7 linked regions of the Homo sapiens genome follow. The protein of the gene in region 4 purifies or fractionates together with the protein of the main gene of each other region. This does not show direct contact. Each region holds a gene or a part of one and is shown on either strand. Other genes may lie near its edges.

The links.
Region 1: the proteins of OR10H2 (region 4) and CLCN3 purify together in Homo sapiens (affinity purification with mass spectrometry; one large-scale study listed by BioGRID and IntAct). This does not show direct contact.
Region 2: the proteins of OR10H2 (region 4) and NRP2 purify together in Homo sapiens (affinity purification with mass spectrometry; one large-scale study listed by BioGRID and IntAct). This does not show direct contact.
Region 3: the proteins of OR10H2 (region 4) and AGPAT3 purify together in Homo sapiens (affinity purification with mass spectrometry; one large-scale study listed by BioGRID and IntAct). This does not show direct contact.
Region 5: the proteins of OR10H2 (region 4) and ST7 purify together in Homo sapiens (affinity purification with mass spectrometry; one large-scale study listed by BioGRID and IntAct). This does not show direct contact.
Region 6: the proteins of OR10H2 (region 4) and TMEM268 purify together in Homo sapiens (affinity purification with mass spectrometry; one large-scale study listed by BioGRID and IntAct). This does not show direct contact.
Region 7: the proteins of OR10H2 (region 4) and ATP13A3 purify together in Homo sapiens (affinity purification with mass spectrometry; one large-scale study listed by BioGRID and IntAct). This does not show direct contact.

Annotation. Positions count from the first base shown.
Region 1 is NC_000004.12:169,721,578-169,724,173, reverse strand, and holds the end of CLCN3 (H(+)/Cl(-) exchange transporter 3), read right to left. Parts: 3' UTR 501-2,596; downstream 1-500.
Region 2 is NC_000002.12:205,720,501-205,724,000, reverse strand, and holds part of NRP2 (neuropilin-2 isoform 2 precursor), read right to left. Parts: intron 1,524-3,500; coding exon 1,293-1,523; intron 217-1,292; coding exon 61-216; intron 1-60.
Region 3 is NC_000021.9:43,871,723-43,875,222, reverse strand, and holds part of AGPAT3 (1-acyl-sn-glycerol-3-phosphate acyltransferase gamma), read right to left. Parts: intron 1-3,500. UniProt on the Homo sapiens protein: Converts 1-acyl-sn-glycerol-3-phosphate (lysophosphatidic acid or LPA) into 1,2-diacyl-sn-glycerol-3-phosphate (phosphatidic acid or PA) by incorporating an acyl moiety at the sn-2 position of the glycerol backbone.
Region 4 is NC_000019.10:15,726,570-15,729,552, reverse strand, and holds OR10H2 (olfactory receptor 10H2), read right to left. Parts: upstream 1,530-2,983; 5' UTR 1,510-1,529; coding exon 562-1,509; 3' UTR 501-561; downstream 1-500. UniProt on the Homo sapiens protein: Odorant receptor.
Region 5 is NC_000007.14:117,226,001-117,229,500, reverse strand, and holds part of ST7 (suppressor of tumorigenicity 7 protein), read right to left. Parts: intron 1-3,500. UniProt on the Homo sapiens protein: May act as a tumor suppressor.
Region 6 is NC_000009.12:114,621,291-114,624,790, reverse strand, and holds part of TMEM268 (transmembrane protein 268), read right to left. Parts: intron 2,489-3,500; coding exon of another isoform or gene 2,291-2,488; intron 656-2,290; exon of another isoform or gene 485-655; coding exon of another isoform or gene 442-484; coding exon 332-441; intron 1-331. UniProt on the Homo sapiens protein: Stabilizes cell surface expression of ITGAM and participates in the adhesion and migration of phagocytes during bacterial clearance.
Region 7 is NC_000003.12:194,445,503-194,449,002, forward strand, and holds part of ATP13A3 (polyamine-transporting ATPase 13A3), read right to left. Parts: intron 3,135-3,500; coding exon 2,955-3,134; intron 2,508-2,954; coding exon 2,350-2,507; intron 1,614-2,349; coding exon 1,425-1,613; intron 1-1,424. UniProt on the Homo sapiens protein: ATP-driven pump involved in endocytosis-dependent polyamine transport. Uses ATP as an energy source to transfer polyamine precursor putrescine from the endosomal compartment to the cytosol.

The sequences.
Region 1 (2,596 bases), on a different chromosome or scaffold from region 4:
AATCAAATGCCTACACCCCCAACCTCTTTCCTTACCACTTTCTTCCCTCTTATCCCTCTCCAGCCACAGTGATCTACTCAGTGTTCCTTGAACCTGGCAGGAGAATCCTTTGTATATAGCATTTTCTCTTCTTACAACATTTTTTCTCACGGATAAATGTCCTTCTCTAACTTTCTGTAGGTTTCTGCTCAAATGCTTCCTTATCCCTGAGGCTTTCCCTGATCACCCTCTATAAAAATGGGGTGGGTGCACACACCTTCACTTTTTGTACATTACAAAAACTATAACAGGATTCTTGACTGATTTTGTATATTCGTAACAGTGTGCAGTACATAAAAATCCTTTTTTAAAATTGCTGAACTAATCCATATTTATCACCATCTGACATACTCTAGATTTCTCTTCCTGCTGGAATGAAAACTTCAAGAACATAGAATAGCGCCTGGCGCCCAGTAATTGCTCAGTAAATACTCAGTGAATATAAATGATCTACTCTGAACTTTTAGTGTGTTCCTTTTTACTAAAAGCTTAATAGTAAAAGACCACATCTTAATCAAAGGTTGTTACTTACCACCCTCTTTTGGCAGTTCTATTAGCAAATGTCCAAGGTGATTTTTTAAAGACATGTAAATAAATCGTTTTACCTCTTTTCATGCAAATAGCGTAATTTTTCTTGCGAAAAAAAAAAAAATCACTTTTGAAAGTGAGCTGAAATGAAATCAGTTTTCTGTGGACCTGCAGCTTTCACTGACAAATGGGGGCGCTAAACCATTGCTGGTGGTATGAACATCCTGCTGTCAATCCAGCATCTATCTACTCTTCTATTGCTCCTTGCTTGCAAAGTGTAGAAATGCTTTGTAACCTGAGAGAAGCATTATAATTATTACCTTTTTGGGGCTCCCTGTGCCAGGCATATCGGCCTACACTGCGTAGGGCAGCAGTGAAGAGGGAGGACTGTTACAGATATAATTAAAGGCCAAACCACACATTGTCATATAGATTTTAATAGATTTTCTGATTAACTCATCACAGTAGTCGTTTTTACTGTAATGATATGCAGCTTTACTACACTAGTATAAATAAAAACAGATAAATACAGCTCTAGGCAACATTACAGATTAACTAAGCATTCTTCGTGAACCAAAACTGAAAACAATTAATTATTAAGAAGAAGAGATGCTGACACCCTTGCCCATTCTCATCATACCTTCTCAAAAAGGGTATTCAAACAAGGCGCTACACTTATTATATTGGTAAATTAATTTGCCAATTAGCCAGGCACAACAATTTCATGGTCTCCACTATTTCATTATTTTGGTTGAAAAGGAGACACACTTCAATGTATGAAAAAGAAAAATGGAACAGATAACACCAAAGAAAACCACTAAATGCATTAAAAATACGGCACTTTTCCTGTATTTTAGCAGTAAGATAGAAATACTAGGGATAGAAATATACCAAAAAACAAAATTAATGCTTTAATTAATATCCACCCTGAAATGTCAGTCTCTGAAGCAAGATGGGCAATTAAAGGAGGAGCAGAAATAAAAAAGGGAAATATGATAAAATAAACTCCATGTGAAGTTTTACGAAGCTATCTGCAAAGAAACCGATTTGTCCTTTGAAGGCTATTAACTCAGGACAATTAAGTTATCCAGCAGCCATGCTGAGGAGTTCATAGTCTAGCAATACGTTGCACACAGGCAAATACACTTAAGACGAGTTGGAGATATACAGAACTATCATTTAGAAATGATTTTACTCTGGATGGCTCAAAAAACTTTGAAAGGGCTATGAAGAAAACTTGAAGTCTGTCAAAGGAGAGAAGTAATAAGGAATAATTTTAGGCAGATAGCACAGCTAAGAATGTTTCCCAAAATCCCGAAAATTTTGCTCAACTTTCAATCCTCATTCTTATATGGCTTCATGATCTTATGTCTTCAGGATCTTACAGATCTTAATAGGTATACTATAATTAAGAACTAGGAAGTGAAGAATCACTTTCAAAATGTAAAAACAGCTCATTGCCAGTTGTGTTTCAGAAAATGTCTGTCTGGGCCAGGCGCAGTGGCCCACGCCTGTAATTCCACCACTTTGGGAGGCTCACGCAGGCAGATTGCTTGAGCTGAGGAGTTGAGACCAGCCTGGGCAGCATGGCAAAACCCCATCTCTACTAAAAATACAAAAAAATTAGCTGGGCATGGTGGCGTGTGCCCGTAGTGCCAGCTACTTGGGTGGCTGAGGCGGGAGTATCACTTGAGCCCAGGTGGTCAACGCTGCAGTGAGCCAAGACCATGCCCCACTGCACTCCAGCCAAAAAAAAAGAAAATGTCTGTTTGCAAAAATTTCATTTTCCTATCAAAAATGCATAATTACAGAATATTTAGCCCAGTCCTTTGAGTAAACTGCCTTTGCCAATTGTGAATTAAGGCTGTGATTAAAACAGACAATTCCAAAAACAAAAATCCCAAATATAATCCAGTGCATTTTCACTCATCCTGCAAAAAATGTTCAAACCATCACTGACCACTTCAAATATGGACGTAACCTAGCCCGAGATTCAAAGGTTATTTTCAGATTAAAATTTTAACTGCTA
Region 2 (3,500 bases), on a different chromosome or scaffold from region 4:
TGTACACCCTCACAGCCCTGACGGAAGGACAGGACAGAGGTTCCCAATCGGCCAACTCACTCTCTAGTGGCTCTTGGTGGACCAGGTAGTAACGCGCAGAGAAGCCATCCTTGGCCACCGCCATGTCCGTGTGAAAGGTCAGGGAGAGGATCCCCGTCGATGAACGAAGTTCAGAGGGTGTTTTGGTCCCACAGTACTTGCCAATCAGGGGGCCAACTGGACATTCAAGACAAAGAGAAGTCAGTGGAAATCAAAATGTCAAACTTGGTTTTCACTCCGTTTTCCCTTCCCCTCATTGCATTTCATTCAGTGGAGCACACTTTGTACATCTTGCCATAAAAACCAAAGATATGTTTCAAGAACAATGGCTAATATTTTTCCTGCACATCAAAAAGCACTTTCACTTTTTCATTAAAAAGGTACAGGCCACTTTCACTGGCTTCATTCTGTTCTCAGTGGCCTGGAAGATGAGCTGGAAAGGTATCATTACAATGTCTGTTCTACAGAGGAAGAAACTGAAGTTTGGAGAGCGCATGTGATTTCTTTATTCTTACTGCTAGGAAATAGCAGAGCTGGGCCTACAACCCAAGTTTTCTGACTAAGTCTTGTGATTTACCCAGGAAATGAAATTGCTCTTTTTGCTTAGTCATCAAGTCTCCTTTATATTAGAAAAAACTTACAATGACTACAAAAGTGAAAGATTTGTTCCTCTCCAATACTAATTAGACCCAAGATCCATGTTGGTCTTCACCTGCGAAGTACTGGTGGCTGTTAGCCTTGGGTGATGTACCTTTTCAATATTTATGACTATATTAATGACAATTTTAAAATTATAGTAATAATGATGATGATAGCAGCTAACTTAACACAGATAAGGCACAGATAGGGTAAGGGATTTGTCTAAGGTTGCACAGCTGGGGAGTAGCAGAGCCGGGAGTTAAGCCCGGCCAGTCTGGCTCTGGAGTCCTTCTGTTTTGTCACAGGGGTTAGCCACTGAGCCACCTTCTATCCTGACAATTTGGAGTAGAAATGAACACTTTAAGTTTTCTCATCCTTTCCAAGTATCTATTTAGTCTCCTATCCTTTTCTAAAGAAATATTTCCAAGAAAGTAGACAGCCTTCCTGTAATTTCTCTCAAGCTATCCTTAGTGAAGGGGAAGAAGAGAAAGTCACCATGGGTCATATAAGAACTCATAGGAGCTTTGAAGTCTTTGTTCTTCCTCTTTATCATCACTAAAGCAATTAACAGGCAAAGGCCAAGCTACTGAGGAATGCCTCATGACATCACTCACCATGTGGAATGCCATCCCAGATGTCCAGCCAATCGTACTTGCAGTCCCCCTCTCCCACCTGCAAAGGGTCATGCTCCAGGTCAAAGATCAGGAACTGCAGGATGATCTCCATCTTGGGTTTGGCCAGGATGGTAAAGGTGCAGTCCAAGTTGTGTGGATACTTCTCAGGAAACCCAGGAGATTCGATGGTCCCGTTGGGGCTTGTGAAGTTTTTTGAGCAATCTTCAGAGCCTGTATGTAAAAGAGAACTGTAGCACTAAGAAGAAGATGCCTTTCTTTGTGGCCTCTGTCACATGGGTTATTTAAATGTTTGGCCCCAAATCCCCCTGCTCTTGAGGTTTTTGTTGCTACTGGAGTGGCCCTTGAAGCAACATACTCTTCACATGCACGTTTCAAGCCCTCATAAATTAGGGAGGCACAGCTGGCTTGCTCTACATAATTATTAGAGTGAGAGCAGCAATTGAGGAATTGGGGAGTGGGGTGGAGGTACAGAGAAGTGTGTGTGTGTGTGTGTGTGTGTGTGTGTGTGTGTGTGTATGAGAGAGAGAGAGAGAGAGAGAGAGGGATTCTCTTGAAAAGAGGAACAGAGTCTTCTTTCTCAATTACTCAGCTGCTCACTCCAGAAATGTAAGTTATTTCAATCCTTAAGGAAGCCTTGCTGATTGCCAGCAGGGAAAACAATGTTACCCCTTATTTGTTGCTGACCTCAACACTAGCCCCTATTGTACCACAGCCAACGAAGTGCCCCCTTCTCCCTCCAAGATCCAAGGTGCCTCAGGGGAGGGGCAAAGGGGAGCTTGGGTCTCATTCATGTCATGACTATATTAAAACGAGCTGCTCTGTAGTGGTCGGACAATTAACAATCGATGTTTTTAGCTGGTGGATCACAGCAGGCCGTTGGGGATGTTAAAGGCCGCTCCGGCAACAAGTTTGGAAAAATGCAGCAGTGCATTGACATTTGGAAGGCTTCTGGCTCCTTTGTGGTGTGGATGGCCTTGTTTCTCTCCTGAGCTCTTGCGTCTGCTTTCTTGGGACGCATGGAGGCATCCTGATTAAATGCGGCACACATTCGCATCCTGGTGCGAGCTTGGATGGCAGCAGGAGCAGGAACAGGAGCTCATAAGAGGATTACAGCCACCCTATCTCTTAATGCCTCTAGGTGGAGTCATATTAAAAGGGTCCTTGTGCTTTAACCAGCCACCATTTGCCAGGGCAGCACCACAGATGGGTCCCGGGAGCACTGCAACCCAGACCCATGGACCCACGAAGCACGAGCTCATGCACATTCACGCAATGAATGAAAGTGCTGGACAATTAGAATTGATTTCACTCGTTATGTTCAGATTTTAAAAGAAGAAAAGGAAGCAGGATTTTTGAGGAGGATAATAGACACTCTAAGCATAAAAAACACAACCAACCAGAAATACTCGATAAACTGGGTGTTTACTGTCAGGAAGTGTCCTCTGGGGCTCACACTGAAATATAACTAGGTGATGTCAATACACTGATCTGAGCCTGCAGCGATGCCTTTATCCGCAGCTCCTGTAGGGGGCCTCTCATTGAGTCTCTTTATTGATGACAGCATTCTGGAAAGAGGCAAATGTCTGATTTGGAAGAAGTGCCATGCAAATAAATGCGGATGGAGGAGTTGCAACTTTCTTCAGCACCAGACAGAAAATTCCAGTATCTCCTACCTATCCATCCATCACTTCCTACTTTCCACCTTGTGCTGTGCTTTGGCAGGGTAGGGACTAGGAACACACGAGGGCAAGGGCTAACCTTTGCATGGGTTCTGTGGAGGCTCTAAGCAGCGAATCTCAGAGGCTCTGCACCCCATCATTCATATGCATGGCAGCAGCAGGTCAGGCCGAGTTTTCAATGGGCAGCTAGTCCTGGAGGGATGAGCTGGGGCTGCCTCCCCCAGCTTTGTTTATGATTGGGCTTCGGACTCCTGAGGGCCTCCTCAATGGCCCGGGATGAGGCAATTCAGCAAAGCCAAGCCAGCTGGCGGGTCTTCAGGGGGCCAAGAGGAATTTTGAAAAGGTTAGAGTTTATGGCTGCTGTGCAGCATTCTTCATGCGGGCCACTCAGCTGAGCCTCACACATGGTTGTGAGGAAATTAACTCTCTATTCACTTCTTGCTTGAGAGCTAGAAAGAGCATCCTGACATGCCCTCTTAGAGCTTGCTCTATTGTCATTCCCTTAGAA
Region 3 (3,500 bases), on a different chromosome or scaffold from region 4:
CAGATCATGAGGTCAGAGTTCAAAACCAGCCTGGCCAATATGGTGAAACCCCTTCTCTACTAAAAATACAAAAATTACCCCAGGCGTGGTGGTGGGCGCCTGTAATTCCAGTTACTCAGGAGGCTGAGGCTGGAGAATTGCTTGAACCTGGGAGGCGGAGGTTACAGTGAGCCAAGATCGTGCCACTGCACTCCAGCTTGGGCGACTGAGTGAGACTCCATCTCAAAAACAAAGAAAAAAATACATATATGGGAGAATGTGCACAGGTTATATACAAATACGACACCATTTTATATCAGGAACTTAAGCATCCACTAATTTTGGTATCCATGGTGGGTTCTGGAACCAATCCCTAGTGGATACCGCAGAATGACTGTATTGAACAAAATAATGGCTGAAAATTTTCCAGAATTGCTGAAAGACATGATACTTTATCTTCAGAAAGTACAATGAATCCAAAACAGGATAAACAAAAAGAAATCCATGCTAGAAAGACCACAGTCAAGTTGAAAAACACCAGAAATAAAGAGACTATAAAAGCAGCCAGACAAAAAGCTTACTACTGACACAGGAAGGACAATTGAAATGACAGCTGGCTTCCTAACCGCAACTTTATAAGCCAGAAGATACATAATAGAATTCAATCCTTAAAGAAATGCCAGAGACTCAGTGCTATACAGACTATATCCCTCTGCCCATGAGGCTTTTCAGCTGAAATCATAATAAAAACAACCTAAAATCCTCAATGCCTTTGGACATAAATGCATTCATGGGTCATGGAAGAATAATAAAATTGTAAAATGCTGAACAATGAAAATATTACATATCAAAATAAACAAGACGACAGTACAGCAGAACTAAGTAGGAAAGCTACATAGACTTAAATGCTTATGACAGGACCGGGCGTGGTGGCTCATGCCTGTAATCCCAGCACTCGGGGAAGCCGAGGTGGGCGGATTGCCTGAGGTCAGGAGTTCAAGACCAGCCTGGCCAACATGGTGAAACCCTGTCTCTACTAAAAATACAATAGTTAGCCAGGCATGGTGGCACACGCCTATAATCCCAGCTACTCAGGTGGCTGAGGCAGGAGAACCACTTGAATCCGGGAGGCGGAGGTTGCAGTGAGCCGAGATCACGCCAGCCTGCGTGACAGAGGGAGACTCTGTCTCAAAAAATAATAATAAAATACTTATGACAGAAAGTTGAAAATTAAGAAACTAAGCTTAGAGAAAATAGAAAAGAAAATGTTTCAATTCAGTAACCTAGAAAGAGAACACCAGAATAAACCCAAAGAGTGTAGAAGGAAATCCTGACAATGAGCAGAAATTAGTGATACGGAAACAAAGACACAGTGGAGAAAATGAGTAAGACTGATAGCTGGTTCTTTGTGAACACTAATAAAAAAGATGAGCCTCTGTGAGATGAATCTAGAAAAGAAAGGTAAAACCATTTTAGGAATGAAAAGGGTGATTTACTGTCAGATATAGTAGAGATTTAAAAATTAAGAAAATATTCTGACCTTTGTATCAAGAAACTGACAACTTGGGCTGGGCGCAGTGGCTCACGCCTGTAATCCCAGCATTTTAGAAGGCCAAGGTGGGAGGATCACCTGAGGTCAGGAGTTCGAGACCAGCCTGGCCAACATGGTGAAACCCCGTCTCTACTGAAAATGCAAAAATTAGCCAGGCGTGGTGGTGCGCGCCTGTAATCCCAGCTACTCGGGAGGCTGAGGCAGGAGAATCGCTTGAACCCGGGAGGCAGAGGATGCAGAAGCCCTGTGTTCTCCTTCCAGGTACTAGAGCCGGAGTCCTCAGGGCACATGGGTTTTGCTGGTGCGCGTGCTTTACCTTGATGAAGTCAGGTGCTGCATACACTTCTGCGGCTCACTCCTTCCACCCAGCGTTATCCTCCGGAGGCGCACACATGTTGCGGCCTGGAGGAGCTCCTTCCTTCCCCTTTCCATGGCGAATGTAGCACGAGGTTATTTTTCATTTTATTTGGAGACAGGCATTGAGAGAGCTCCCGGGGTCTGACTCCAACACCCATGCCACTATGAGCACCTCAGCATGTCCCCCGGGAAGCACACGGCAGGTGCACCCGCCACTCGATGCCATCTCCCTGCAGCTCCTGCCATTCCCAAAGCAGCCACGCTGGCACCAGTGCTCTGTCTGCCCCCACATCTTCTCCAGCACTTGTCCCCACAGTCTTTTAAGTTTCGCCGTCCCGGCAGGGGGAGGCCGCAGCTCTCTGTGGTTTTGTTTCTGCGTCTTCCCGGTGACCCATGACAGTGGATCTTCCATCTCTCCAGCTCCTTGCTTTTGGGTCACTTTGTTTGTATTTCTCACACCAGGCCTCCTCTGCTTCAAGGAGGCAGAGTGGGACGATTCAGAACTAAACGGCCACTGTTTGTACCCACACCGGAAGGCAGCATGGTAGAAGCATTTCCCTAAAATCAGGAACAGGACAAGGATGGCCTGTCACACTTCCATACAGCCCTGCTCAGGAGGGCCTGGCCCAGGCAGCAAAACAGGAAGGAAAAATACGAAAGATATAAGGAAGAAACAGAGTCTTCACCACTCCCACATGACGTGAATGTCTACTGAGAAAATCCCCAAAATCTACAAATAAATTTTAAGCAATGGCAAGGTGATCAGCTGTTAAATCAATACCCAAAAGTCAACTGCATTTCTACAGAACACCAGCAAAGACTTAGAAATCAATAAAAATAAAAAACACCATTTACGGCCGGCGCGGTGGCTCACGCCTGTAATTCCAACACTTTGGGAGGCCGAGGTGGGTGGATCACTTGAGGTCAGGAGTTCGAGACCAGCCTGGCCAACATGGTGAAACCCTGTCTCTACTAAAAATACAAAAATTAGCTAGGCATGGTGGCGTATGCCTGTAATCTCAGCTACTCGGGAGGCTGAAGCAGGAAAATCACTTGAACCCGGGAGGCAGAGGTTGCAGTGAACTGAGATCCTGCCACTGCACTCCAGCCTGGGTGACAGAGCAAGATTTTGTCTCAAAAGAAAAAAAAAAAAAAACACCATTTACAAAAGCAAGAACAATAATAAGGGCACCTGGGAATAAATGTAAGCACAGAGTGTCAGGTGGAATGTGAAATACCACGGTGCTTTATCAAAAGACACCTCGGAAGACCTGCACAGTCAACTCTAGAGAGATAAAGGGCTTAAGCAGAGAAAGCAAACTTTACAACTTCTACAGAAAAATACAGAATACATTTGTGACCCAAGAATTGGGAAGAACTTAAAGTAACATGCAAAAGGCACTACCTAGAAAAGAAGGATGGATAAAATTATACATTACATTAAAACTATCTTTTCACCAAAACAAAAAAAGTGAAAAGATAAAACCCAACTGGGAAAAATATATAATGCACACATTACAGCCAAAGATGAACATCCTGAATCTATAAGGAAATATATAATATGGAAACTATATATAAGGAATAGGTGAGAAAAAGACATCACCCAAAAGAA
Region 4 (2,983 bases):
GTATATGTATGTAACTAACCTGTACGTAGTGCATATGTACCCTAAAACTTAAAGTGTAATAAATTAAAAAAAAAAGAACTTGTGTGTGTGTATGTGTTTGTGTGTGTGTGTAGATGGCATCTCACTATGTTGTCCAGACCGATCGTGAATTCCTGACATCAAACAATTCTCCCACTCAGCCTTCCAAAGCACTAGGATTTGGGTTTCTTTTTTGGATGACTAAAATACTCTAAGCCAGATTGTCATGATGGTTGCATAACTCTGAATACGCAAAAACCACAGAAATGTGCGCTCTAATGGGTACATTGTATGGTAGGTGAATTACATCTTAATAAAGCTACTATAACTCAAAAATTAAAACTCAGATAAAGACATACAGATCAAGAGTTGTGGAAGTAAACATGCTTTTAACATTTACTGAGCACCTACTATGTGATGAGTGTTGTCATATACAGAAATCTTTACACCTGCCTTACAAGGTAAGCATTACTAGCCACACTGTGCAGACAAGGTGATGGTCATCCTCCTATCATATTCTATCAGCACTTCCACACCAGCTACTCAGGTGCCTGAGGAATAGAGTGTGCTGAGGAAGGTCCTCTTCATGGCAACCTTCAGTTCTTTGTTCCTGAGGCTGAAGATGATGGGGCTGAGGAAGGGCGTGAGGACTGCGTAGGTGGTGGCCATCAGGGTGTCACCCTCCTGAGAGTGGGGACCTTTGGGCTTGAGGTAGATGACAGAGGCAAAGCCATAGTGCACAATGACCACAATAAGGTGAGAGGCACAGGTGGAGAAGGCCTTGTTCCGACCTTCAGCAGAAGGGATCTTCAAGATGTCGGCCACGATGAAGGCATAGGAGAGGAGGATGAGGAGAAAACAGCCCAGCAGTGCCATGATACATACCAAGCCCACGCCCAGGGCCACAGCTGGTACATTATTTCCACAGGCCAACTTCAACAGAGGTGGCACATGACATAAAAAATGCTGGATCTCATGGGATCCACAGAAAGTCAGTTGGAAAATGGCCGAGGTCACCACCATCCCCATGACCGAGCCACCAGCCCAGGAGCAGCCCACCAGGCAGGCGCAGCCCCGTGGGCTCATGAGCACGTTGTAGCGCAGGGGGTGGCAGATGGCCACGTAGCGGTCGTAGCCCATGACGGTGAGCAGGAAGGAGTGGGTGAAGCCGAAGCTGAAGGAGAAGAACATCTGACTGGCACAGGCCAGGAAGGCGATGGAGCGCTGGGTGGACAGCAGGTCGGCCAGCATGCGCGGGATGATGGCCACGGTGTAGAGGATCTCGGAGACTGAGAGGACGCACAGGAAGAGGTACATGGGCGTGTGGAGGCTGCGCTCGCTCCAGACGGTGGCCATGATGAGCAGGTTGCCCAGCAGCGTGAACAGGTACATCAGCAGGAACAGCAGGAAGAGCATCAGTTGGAGGTGGGGGAAGGCAGAGAAGCCGACGAGGATGAATTCAGACATGGAGGTGTGGTTTAGCCCCAGCATGACGGCCACCCCTAGTTGGGGAAGAGAGGAAAGAAGACCCAGTGGTTAGGAGCATGGGGGTGTCTAGTGATTCCTGCCTGGGAGGACATCTGAGAGCGCCTCCTTCATCTGTCCAAGCCATGGTTACTCCATCTGCAGAAAGGCATTAATAATAATGTATTGAGGTTTAAATAAGATCACTCACCTTAAGTGCTTTGTGCAGGTCCTGACACAAAGTAAGAATTTAATAAATTATAAATGTTGATAGTAATAATTATTCTGCTATTGTTATTGCCATCACGATTATTAGATCCATGCACCACCACCTACACCTTGCTTTTCTGCCTTTGTTCATGCTGGTCTTTTCATGCTTTTCCCTATCTTTATGGGTCCAAATCCTACCTGAATTTTATGAGCAAGCTGCTCCCTGATTGCCACCTTCAGCTGGAAGTCATCTCTTCCCTATGTCATGGAAACGTCCAGACTCTGTTTAATTCTCGGCACCACTGCTTTCTAGCTGTGAGATGCAGGGCAGGTTGCTTCCCCTCTCTGAGCCTCATTGCTCCCCTGGAAAATTGAAACCACCTTTGCAAAATTATGACTGAGACAGCGAAAGAGATCTAACTTAACCAACTCCATCTTGCTTCTAACCTCCAAGCTGTCCTTGTTCATTCCAGGACATAGGGTGAACTAACTTTGGGGGAAATTTAGTTTATAGTTTATAGTTTATAGTTTGGAACAAGGACGATAACAGCCCTTTCCCAAAGCAGACCTCCTTCTTGTCTGGGGATTAGATTGCCTTTGTAGAACTAACATTAGCCACAAGATTAGAAATTATGGTTTAGGAGTCATGCAGCTGGAGGCTACAAGATTCTGACCCTCCCTAAATTGCTCCCAAGATCAGTGCTTGAGATATTTTGCAGATCCTGCACTTGATGGATCAGCTGGCACCACCCAGGTCGATAAACTGGCTCAACTGATCTTGTGGCCCCCACCCAGGAACTGACTCTCCGCAAGAAGACAGCTTTGATTTCATCTCTGACCAATCAGCACTGCTGGCTCACTGGCTTCCCCTCCACCCACCAAGTTGTCCTTAAAAACTCTGCTCCCCAAGTGCTCAGGGAGACTGATTTGAGTAATAATAAAACTCCAGTCCCCTGCAGAGCCAGCTCTGTGTGAATTACTCTTTCTCTATCACAATTCCGCTTTTTTTTTTTTTTTTCTTTGAGACAGAGTCTCACTCTGTCCCTGCTGGAATGCAGTGGCATGATCTCGGCTCACTGCAACCTCCGCCTCCTGGGTTCAAGCAATTCTCCTGCCTCCGCCTCCTGAGTAGCTGGGATTACAGGCCCGCATCACCACACCTGGCTAATTTTTGTATTTTTAGTAGAGATGGGGTTTAACCATGTTGCTCGGGCTGGTCTTGAACTTCTGAGTTCAAGTGATCAGCCTGCCTCAGCTTCCCAAAGTGCTGGGATTTATAGGTGTGAGCCAC
Region 5 (3,500 bases), on a different chromosome or scaffold from region 4:
AGGTCTTCCTGCTAGTCTTTAGCATCTGCCAGCTGCCATGCAGATGACTGGTGTCGTCAAACAGGAATGACAGATTGGTGGCAAGTGGGCACAAGAGTTAAAAAATGGTGACAACTTAGACCAGCTGCTCATCTAGCTGGGTGTAGAGCTCACTTTAAATGGAAATGGCAATTTTACAGGTCAAGTGTGTTGTGTATGAATTTCTTTGCGGTCCTACTGCCTCCCAGACACCAGCGTGGGCTCCTTTCTGAGCCACATGTTTAGCAGCATGCCTGGGACCCTGGGAGAAGGCGGCAAACGGGCTATTCCATGGAGGACAGATCCTTGTTAAGGGGCTGTTCCGAGTGCACCTCTGGGAACTCTTTCATTTGGTTACTAAATTCCTTTCTGCTTTTCATGTAGAGAATAAAGCTCATTAGCTGTGTCTTTTAAGAAAGCCAAGTGCTTCACATGAGATACTTATTAAAATATTCTCAAATCCATTCTAATTCTGTTCTTGTGAAGAATCAGTTTCATTCCACACCCCATCCAGCATCTGGCAGAAGAGGTGCCCTATCCCAGTCAGGGAAGAGAGAGTTGTTGGGATGGTTTCATTGCCCTCTCTCTGCTCAGAACCCAGGTATTGTCTTACTGGGGTTCAACACCTGGTTCTTGTACCATGGAGCCCTTTGTCCTAAGCCCTTGTCCATTACACAGCACCATCTACACTACCAAGAATTTCTCATAGAAGTGTAGTGCAGTGTGTGTGTATATAATGCAGAGGGGATCATAGTTCTGAGGTCAAGCAAATTTAGTATATTTAATAAAGTTAAATCAGGCTCCTTTACTAGGTAAATGTTCTGTGGACTGTGGGTCTTCGAGAAGAGGTATGGTGGGCAAGTTTCCCAAATTTGCTGACCCAGAATCTGTCCTGTTGTTTCATTTTGTTTTTGGACCAGTAGAACACACACTGGGAAGGCAGGTAACACAAAATAGCCAGATCATCAAATGCGAGATCCATATAATGCAAAATCAAGACAGCGTAAAATTTGGGATCCTTCTCCAATCTGTGTTTTACACCAATTAAATGTATTTATTTAGTAAGGCACTTAAGTGCTGGGTGAAATATAAAGGGGTGTAGTTCAAAACTAAACTCCCACTGTCAGGAAGCTCAAAGCCCAGTGATGGAGGGGGCCACGAAGATCTGGACAGAGCAAACTAATAATGAGATAGGCTGTGATGGCAATCAGGATAGAGGCCCAAACAAAGCACTGGGATTGGAAAAGGGAGAGAATCCATTCTGTTGAAAGGAGCAGGAATACTTTTGAGAAAGAGGCAAGTGAAATGGACTCCAGTGGATGCTTGGAATATCAAAAGAGAGAGATGGAGTAAGGATGGTAAAGGAAGAAATAGGAGCAGGGTGGGCCCTCCAGGCTCAATAAACAGTCAAAGAGAAATGGAAAAGCAACACTATTACCAGAAGGTAGTAAATGGTTCAGTTTAGCTAGGACAGTTAGAAGAAGTAGAGTTCAAAAGTGGCTAGAAGGATACTGGGGAGGGCCCTGCGTGTCAGGTTGGATCTGCAGTTAAGAAACAGGCAGCCATGTCAGTGCTTGAGCAAAGAGGAGACGGTGCCATCCTCAAGCGGGTGCCAGGTACATGGCAGTTTCTGATAATCTTCTGAAATTATCCTTTGTTGAGTGCACAAAACCACCCTACGGAATAGATGGCCTATCTTTTTCAGTTTAGAGCTGGATTGGGAGCACCCATGAATGCAGTTGGAAGGCATCATGGGAGACAATGGGCCTGGGAATGAGCAATTACTGCCCAATTACTCTGAAAGCATTTGTAAAATCCTAGTTATAAGAGGATAATATGGAACAAGTCTACTGATTGCATTCACCCAACATGATAGGAAATACACACATAATATGTGTACATACATAATTATATATGTCTGCGTATATGTATATCTACATACACAGACACATATATAATCAGAGACTACCAAGGCTCCACAAACCACAGCATCTGTCTATAATGCTCAACTTCATAAAGAGGAGTTAAAGTGTTACAGTGGTCTCGATAAACCAGAGATTCTGACAGGTGGTGGAAGATAGGGCTTAATAAACAAGGTGATATTGCTGGCAAAGTTATATCCTGAAGACTTGGCCAAAAACAGATTTAGAACTGTTGAAGTTGTGGTTGAGTGGGGAAGGAACTGCTGATATTGAGCCATTGCAGCCATGGAGCTGTTGCAACTGCTGAACATGAGCCAGCGCAGCTAGATAACAGGCATCGCTCAAAGTCTGTACTCTGGGTGATGCACACACACTAAAATGTGGGGTCCTCGGGGAGCCTCACCTTGAGCTGTAGAATGAATGGAGATGTTACAAGGTTGGCTTAAAATAAAGGCCTTTATTTGTTTGCTTTGTTTTGGGCACTAACCTGACTTGGATAAAAAGCACAAAAGTGAAGCCTCTGAAAATCAGGAGGAAAGCTTCATCCTGGTTGATGTCCATAAATGCTCCCTTTTCCCCATGCTGCACAGCAAAGTACTGTGGTCCCTTCTTTCCTGGATGACACCTGCCCTTCTCAACAAGGTTCCACAAGAATACGAAGCCCCAATGCTTCCAACGTATAGAATGATTTGCTTCTATCCCTCCTATCTAGAATGTTCCATCCTTGGGAGAATTCACAAAGACTCCCTTGAACTTTTTCCTAGAGGGCCTAATTTACTCTCCCACGAGCCCCAGTTGAGATGGGCTCCCTTCATTACTAAGCCACCTTCCCCCACAGCAAGCCTTCCATCCCATACCTGCAAGGAAGGAGCAGGCAATGTAGTGAGGTGTCTGAAGCTGCTAAGCCCTTTCACTTCATAACCAAATAAAAGCTCCATCAGGAGATATTTTTTAAAAAATGTCTGGAGGTGCAGACTTGCTTGGGATGCTCAGTTGTATTTCTGCGCATGTTTGAAAATCAGTCAATATTTTTTAGTTGGAGACCCAACCAATATAGAAGGAGAAACAGCAGTTTTCACTTGACTTAGGGGGAAATTTACTGCTGAAAAGTTAAGTCTGAATGAGCAACACCAAGAAAACCTGGAACAGCCTATTTATCTCGATGTCTAAAACTGTCCAGAGGGCAGAGATACATGGTCATATCTTTAATCAAAATGCCCTAGGATTCAATGAGTGTCTCGTGGTGAGAAAAAGCAACTGAACTAGTAAAAAAAGAGAACGACATTTCAATTGCCTGATCTTCCTTTTCCTGAAACACCATCACTTAGAAGGTCACGGCTCCCAACAGGCTTCATTAACATTCAAAACGCCTCTGCTTATCTGAATAACTTCCAGGTGCCCTACTGCAATCAGACAATTGACATTTCACGGTAATCAATATCAGGCTTCAAAGAGGTCGAGGACTATAAGTGAACATGAGAGTCAGAAATCAAGAGGCTCAGTCTCGGAGAAGGAGAGAGACAAGAGAAGGAAAGACAGAGGGGTCAGAATCCTGACCTT
Region 6 (3,500 bases), on a different chromosome or scaffold from region 4:
CATTTATATGATACTGTCCCAATTTCTCCCACACACGTCCATCTTCCCCGCTGGGATCTGTGGACATAGGTACTGTGTCCTGTCCACCCCTATTATGTTTAGCCAGTTAAGTGCCTGGCACAGAGTGGGCACCCAAAAAAATACACATTTGTTAAGTGAGTTAACCGGGAAGAGAGGAAAGAGAGGGCACTTCTAATATACCTTCCTTATATACCCTACGACAGCTGGTACAGACTGTTTCATAAAGATTTTGTGAAAAACTGGATGAAAAGATAGAGGGATGAATGGATGAAAGAGAAAATGGTAGGGATTCAAGGAAATCAGCACTCACCTGGATGCCCCAAGTTTGCAGTTGCTCTTCTGCGGCTCCCAGGTCGAAGGAGATGGGTGCACAGGTATTGTCAATCCGGAGAACAGTGAGGACCTGGCCATTGTGGAGCTCTGGAAGCAGACCAGAAGCTTCATCTGGCTGAGTGATAACCATACCAGGCTCGTGGGGTGAGCCCGAAGCCTGGCGGCATCACACCTCTGGCCATGAGAACCTCCTCGCAACAAGGAGGGACACGGTGGCCATCCTCAAATCCTCTTGAGAGAAGGACTGGATTTGACTGGGAAGCCCCCAGGAGGCAGAATTAAGGCCAGAGGGAGGAGGCTCCTAGGACCACAATGTGAGACCATATAAGGAAGAATTTTCCAAGAGCAAAAGCTGTCCCCATAAAAAATAGGCATTTTTTGTCCCCACAAAAAAATGTTCCCCAACACAAGGAATATTTAAACAGAGACTGAAAAACTACATTGAGGGGGGTGATGCAGTGGACCTTTATTTAAGCATTGCAAAGAATGCTCAGCTGAATAAGTTAAATTCCCAGTAGGCTCAGAGAGTCTAAGTAAGAAATAACTGGTCACAGTAGGCAGAACAATGGCCCCAAAGATGTCCACACCCTAATCCCCAGAGCCTGCAAATATACTGCCTTCCATGGCAAAGGGTGGAAGTAAGGGGGCTCATTAGCTGGCCTTTAATAGGGAGACTATCCTGAATCATCCGGGTGGGCCCCATGAAATCACAAGGAACCTTAAACGTGGAAAAGCGGGACAGAAGTAGAGTCAGAGGGAGATTTGACTATGGATGAAAGGCAAGGAGGGATGTGGCATCGATCGCTTTGACCATGGAGGGAGAGGGCCATGAGCCAGGGAATGTGGGTGGCCCCAAGGGGCTGGACAAGGAAAGGAAATGGATTCTCCCCAGAGCCTCCAGAAAGAAAAACAGTCCTGCCACCAAGGGGATTTCGGCTCAGTGAGATCAGTGTCAGACATCTAACTTACAGAACTATGAAATAACAAATCCAGCTGGGTGCAATGGCTCACACCTATAATCCCAGCACTTTAGGAGGCCGAGGCAGATGGATCGCCTGAGGTCAGGAGTTCGAGACCAGCCTGGCCAACATGGTGAAACCCTGTCTCTACTAAAAACAAAAATTAGCCGGGCGTGGTGGCACGTGCCTGTAATCCCAGCTACTGGGGAGGCTGAGGCAGAATTGCTTGAACCTGGGAGGTGGAGGTTGCAGTGAACCGAGATCACGCCATTACACTCCAGCCTGGGCAACAAGAATGAAACTCCATCTCAAAATAAATAAATAAATAAATAACAAATCTGTGGTTGGTTTGGCTTGTTGTTGTTGTTGTTGTTGTTGTTGTTTTTTGGAGACAGAGTCTCTCTCTGTCACTCAGGCTGGAGTGCAGTGGCACGATCTCAGCTTACTACAATCTCCACCTCCCAGGTTCAAGTGATTCTTGTGCCTCAGCCTTTCAAGTAGCTGGGATTACAGGCATGCACCACCATGCCTGGCTAATTTTTGTATTTCAGTAGAGACACAGTTTCGCCATGTTGGCCAGGCTGGTCTCAAACTCCCAGCTTCATGTTATCTGCCCGCCTCGGCCTCCCAAAGTACTGGGATTACAGGCATGAGCCACTGCACCTGGCCCAAATCCGTGGTTTTAAGCCAGTATGTTAGTGGTAACTTGTTATAGCAGCAATAGAAAACTAATACACTGATTTACTGTAATCCCTCCTACGTATGGCTGCAACACACTCCGCATTTCAAAAGCATAAAATACGTGTTTATTCCCTCAAAAAACACGCATCAACCCAGGCTGCTCACAACTGCTACCAAAGCCCCCGCCCTCCAAGGGTAGGATGAAGCCAGACCATGAGACCAGCTGGAGAGAAAAGTCTGGACTGAAATCCCCTCAAGACCAGGGAGGAATGGCAGCAGCACAAAGCCAAACCTACCTGCCTGCAGTTCCAAGTAGAGAAACTGGACAAAAGGATCGAGATCTCCTTGCACCACAGTACAAGGCCCTGTGAGCCACTGGTCAGCAGCCAGGAGGTCTGGGGGGTGGGAGAGATTCCAGCCCTGGGATTCTAGGATCCCAGGTTTCAGCCATGCACTGCTGAGGACTGGATATTTTGGCATATTCTCTATGGCGGCTGCTTAGACAATGAGGCAGGACAGAAGAGATTAAAGCATAAGTGTGTTGTCTGCTGATCCAAAACTCCTGTCACCCCAGTCTAGCTCTGAACAGTACTTGAGTCTTCAAAGCCAAATGACTCACTCCACTTTCCAGGAAATTCCTGGCCTATCCAAACCCTCTCTCTCCCTGCTCCCCCAATGTATCACCAAGCCCTGCCAACTAGGCAAACAAAACATCTGTCCACTCTGTGCCCTCCTGGCATCCTCACCTCTCCCTTGGCCCTCTGCAGTAGCCTCCTAAGTGGCTTCTGCTGCAAACCTACCTTTACTTCTACAATGCATCTTCCACACAGTGGCCAGGGTGCAGATCAGATGACACCAATGCCTTGAGAAAACTTTCAATCGCTTCCTGTTGCTTTGCAAAAGCCAACCTTGTTACCACGTTCTTCCAGCCCTTAGGAAAACTAGCCTCCTGCCAGACTCAGCTTGAGCCCCTCAGCCTCGTTCTATGTCTCACCACACCCGCCTCCTTCAGTCCCTGAACATGATGTTCTCCCCCACCCCAGGGCCTTTGCATATACTGTTCCTCTCTCTAGGACACGTCTACCTAGCTTCACCCAGTTACAGCCCATGCATCATTTGTATCCCAGCTCATGATTCACTTTCCCCAGAGAGGCCTCCTTGACACTCTAAACTCCTAACTGATCAAATCCTCTGCTAAACCTACCATAACTGACGCTCTTCTCCTTAATACTCGCCCAAGCTAAATACCTATGTATGCAATTATTTGATTACATATGCATGAAATTACTTGAATAAAATCTATCTTTTCCACCAGACTATACACTCTCACACTGGTTTGTTCATCACTGAATCCCCTGATCTGATACAAACAGGAGGCACATTAAATACACGTTTGGTGTATAAACAAATTAATAAGATAGGAAAAGGTTCTTTTTCTTTTTTTTTTTTTTGAGACAGCATCTCACTCTGTCACCCAGGCTGGAGTGCAGTGACACTAACATGGCT
Region 7 (3,500 bases), on a different chromosome or scaffold from region 4:
AAAATAAGACTGACAATGTGTTGATAACTGATAAAGCTGGGTAATGAGTAAATGAGTGTTTATTATACACACATCTTTTCTCCACTTTTGTCTTAAAACTTTTAGGAAAGTTTCCAAAAAAGACAAGCATAAGTGAAATTTTTTGAACTGATAAATATGAAATAATTGTAGCAGTATGTGACATATTTTTTTCTAACAGAACATGTTTCCCATTTTTTTCTGTAATAATGAAATGCACAAAAATCAAATTTGTATCACATCAGTTACCCAGAAAAGTTTGATAGAAGGTTTTCTGGTCAAAGTTTAATTCTCAGAAAACTTTAAAGAAAATTCCAGCTCAGGAAAGGAGAAACCTTTCTAAGAGGCAAGATATACTTCACACAGGTACATAATTTGTCATTTTCACATAAAATCAGTGACCTTCATAATTCTTAAACATATTCAATAAAATCATACAGCAAACACTAAACATACACACTTACAAGCAATAAAATCATAATAAATATATATGTATGGAGCCTATTGTGTTAAATAAGAATTACTGTCTAAAAAATTAAAGGTCACGTAATCTTTACTGCTACTACTATTAATACTACTAGGCCTAATTCTGGAGTTAACTGAAGCTTTGAGCAAATAAGCAATATCCAAAGTATTAAAAATTGAGAAAATAAGAAATATAGCATGTCCTCAAATACGATTGTTTTGTCCGTCTTTTTTTATAACACGATGGGTGCCAGTGGTGGGGAGAGCTGAGGCCCAGCCGCGACCACTATCTACATGGAGTTTGCATGTTCTCTCCCTGTCTGCATGGGTTTCACTCCAGGTACTTCAGTTTCCTCCCACATCAAAGCTACGCAAGTTAAGTGAACCAGCACATTTAAATGGTCCCAGTCTGCGCGAGTGTGAGTACACCCTGCGATACGATGGCATCCTGTCTAGGGCTGGTTCCTGCCTCGTTCCGCCAGTTGCTGAGATACGCTCCCACTACCCAGGAGCCTGAAATAAAACAACTGGGTAAATAATTACCTTACTTGTTTTTATTTCTTTCTTAAATGAATGTATAGCTCATATTTATTTCAATGATTAATATCAGAAGTGTTTTAGATCTTTATTTAGAAGTTTGGTGATTTTTTGTGACCAAAATATGGCATAGGAACTTAAATCTCATTTGTATCAATTAGCCTATGGTAAAACTGGTTTCATTTCATTTAAAGTTGCAGTTTTCAAGAACCTATCAGTAATGTTAAGTGAGAACTTATGGTATAGAAAAATGATGCATATACCAAATAAGTGGAGGAAAAGGAAAATTAGAGGAACATGACAGAATGTGTCCAAATTTGTTGACAAAGAAAATAAAAAACATTGATCTAAATATTTAAACGCTACGAAGTAACCTTTGAAAGTAACTATGAAACTGAACCCACCTTGTCAAAGCAAACAAGATTGAGCTGTCCACAAATATTTATTCTTTGAGGACTGATACAGAAAATACCGATTTTTTTCAGTCTTCTCTGAGCATACACAATACCAGCAGTCATTGCAGCAGGAAGTGCAGGGGGCACAGTAATTGTGATAATATCAAGAGACTCGATAATTATGACCCCAACTTGTACCTACAATTAACACAAAAATAAATGTCAAATCCCCAGTATTATTTACGGATTTAATATGGGTATTTCTTTAGTGAAAATCTGTAAGCCATTTTCAATTGTATATTTCAATTTTATGTATGTGTGTGTATATACATATCTATTAACCATATATAATTTTTTTCTTCAGATATTTCTGCAAAATAAAAAAGCTCAATGGATTATAGAATGACAGCTACTTTCAAAAGAAACTTATCTCATTTTCAAGGCGCTACATACTTCACACATGACACACTTCAAAGCCGGTCAACAATCATTATCAGATATTGACTCAGCGTGCACACACCTTACTGTACCACTCTCCACTTCTGACAAGCGGCGCCTTCAATTAACTAACCACAAATCATTTTAACACTGTATATTACATCTCAGAGGTAAAAAAGAGAAAATAAAGCTTTTGGTGATTATGTGGGGGGGTTTTTTTTCCTGTTTTTTTTTTTTAAAGTCACAAGACCAAGTAAAAGACCATCTAAACCAGAGGCACCCAAAAGAAGTATCCTTTACAATGGAAATGTTCTATAGCTGGGCTTTCTAATATCATAGCTACTAGTCTCATGACTTTGTTAGCATTAAATTAATTAAAATTAAATTAGCTTAAAATTTTAGTTCCTCATTCTCAGTAGCCACATTTCAAATCCTCAATAGCTGCATATGATAAATAATTGAGGTTCAAACCCTATTAAGAGTCCCACATACATACCTCATTTAAAATGCTATTAATAATAGTGTAGATAAACCCAATGCCAGCAACTGCCACAAGACATAGTAGAAACAAGTAGGCATCTCTGTAGAGTTTAAAATCAGTTGGTTTGGGATACAATATGGAACGAACAAGCTGTCCTTTGGAAGTACTAAATCCTTTCAAAAAAAGAAGACAATTATTGATATTTTTATAAGAAAATGAGAATTATCTCCCAAAACAGAATCTCTCTTTTTTTTTTTTTGAGACAGAGTCTCGCTCTGTCACCCAGGCTGGAGTACAGTGGTGTGATCTCGACTCACTGCAAGCTCCGCCTCCTGGGTTCACGCCATTCTCCTGCCTCAGCCTCCCGAGTAGCTGGGACTGCAGGCGCCCGCCACCAGGCCCGGCTAATTTTTTTGTAATTTTGGTAGAGACGGGGTTTCACCATGTTAGCCAGGATGGTCTCAATCTCCTGACCTCATGATCCGCCCACCTCGGCTTCCCAAAGTGCTGGGATTACAGGCGTTAGCCACAGCACCCAGCCCAGAATCTCTTTTTAAACATTTAGTAGGTATCAAATATGCTGAAACATGCAAAAAGAGATTAATTAAGATGTTTCCTACCTGTTCTAACAACTATGGCTTTGACGAGTTCTCCAGTGTAGAAACGAGTCTGAATAACAGTTGTCCCACAAAACAAAGTATGTCGTTTATGTGTTTCTGGATTATATAATTCATCTCCTATTCCTTTCACATCCACTGAAGGATTTGGCAAATTAGTCTTTGTCACTGGAACACTTTCTCCTTTAAAAAACAACAACAACAACAAAAACAGTTTACAAATTATTAAACGAAAGCACAGGAATCAGTATCGAACACCAAAAAATATTAAATTGTTAAATATTTTAAATGCTACCATACTGTTTACAATAATCACTGAGAGTTGTATATGTGGACAACATGGCTTAATTTTTTGTCTACCAATTTCCTCACATAGAAGTATCAAATATTATCTCCCACAATAATTCCAGAAAGTGATTTGTGGCTCAAAGGTAATATTTGTTTATATTTAGAAACAGTTGCATTGTTCAGTTTCAAATAATTTCAAAAAAGATTAAGTAGTTGCTATAGTCCCTGCACCTCTAAGAACTAATGGTAACAGTGGAAAGC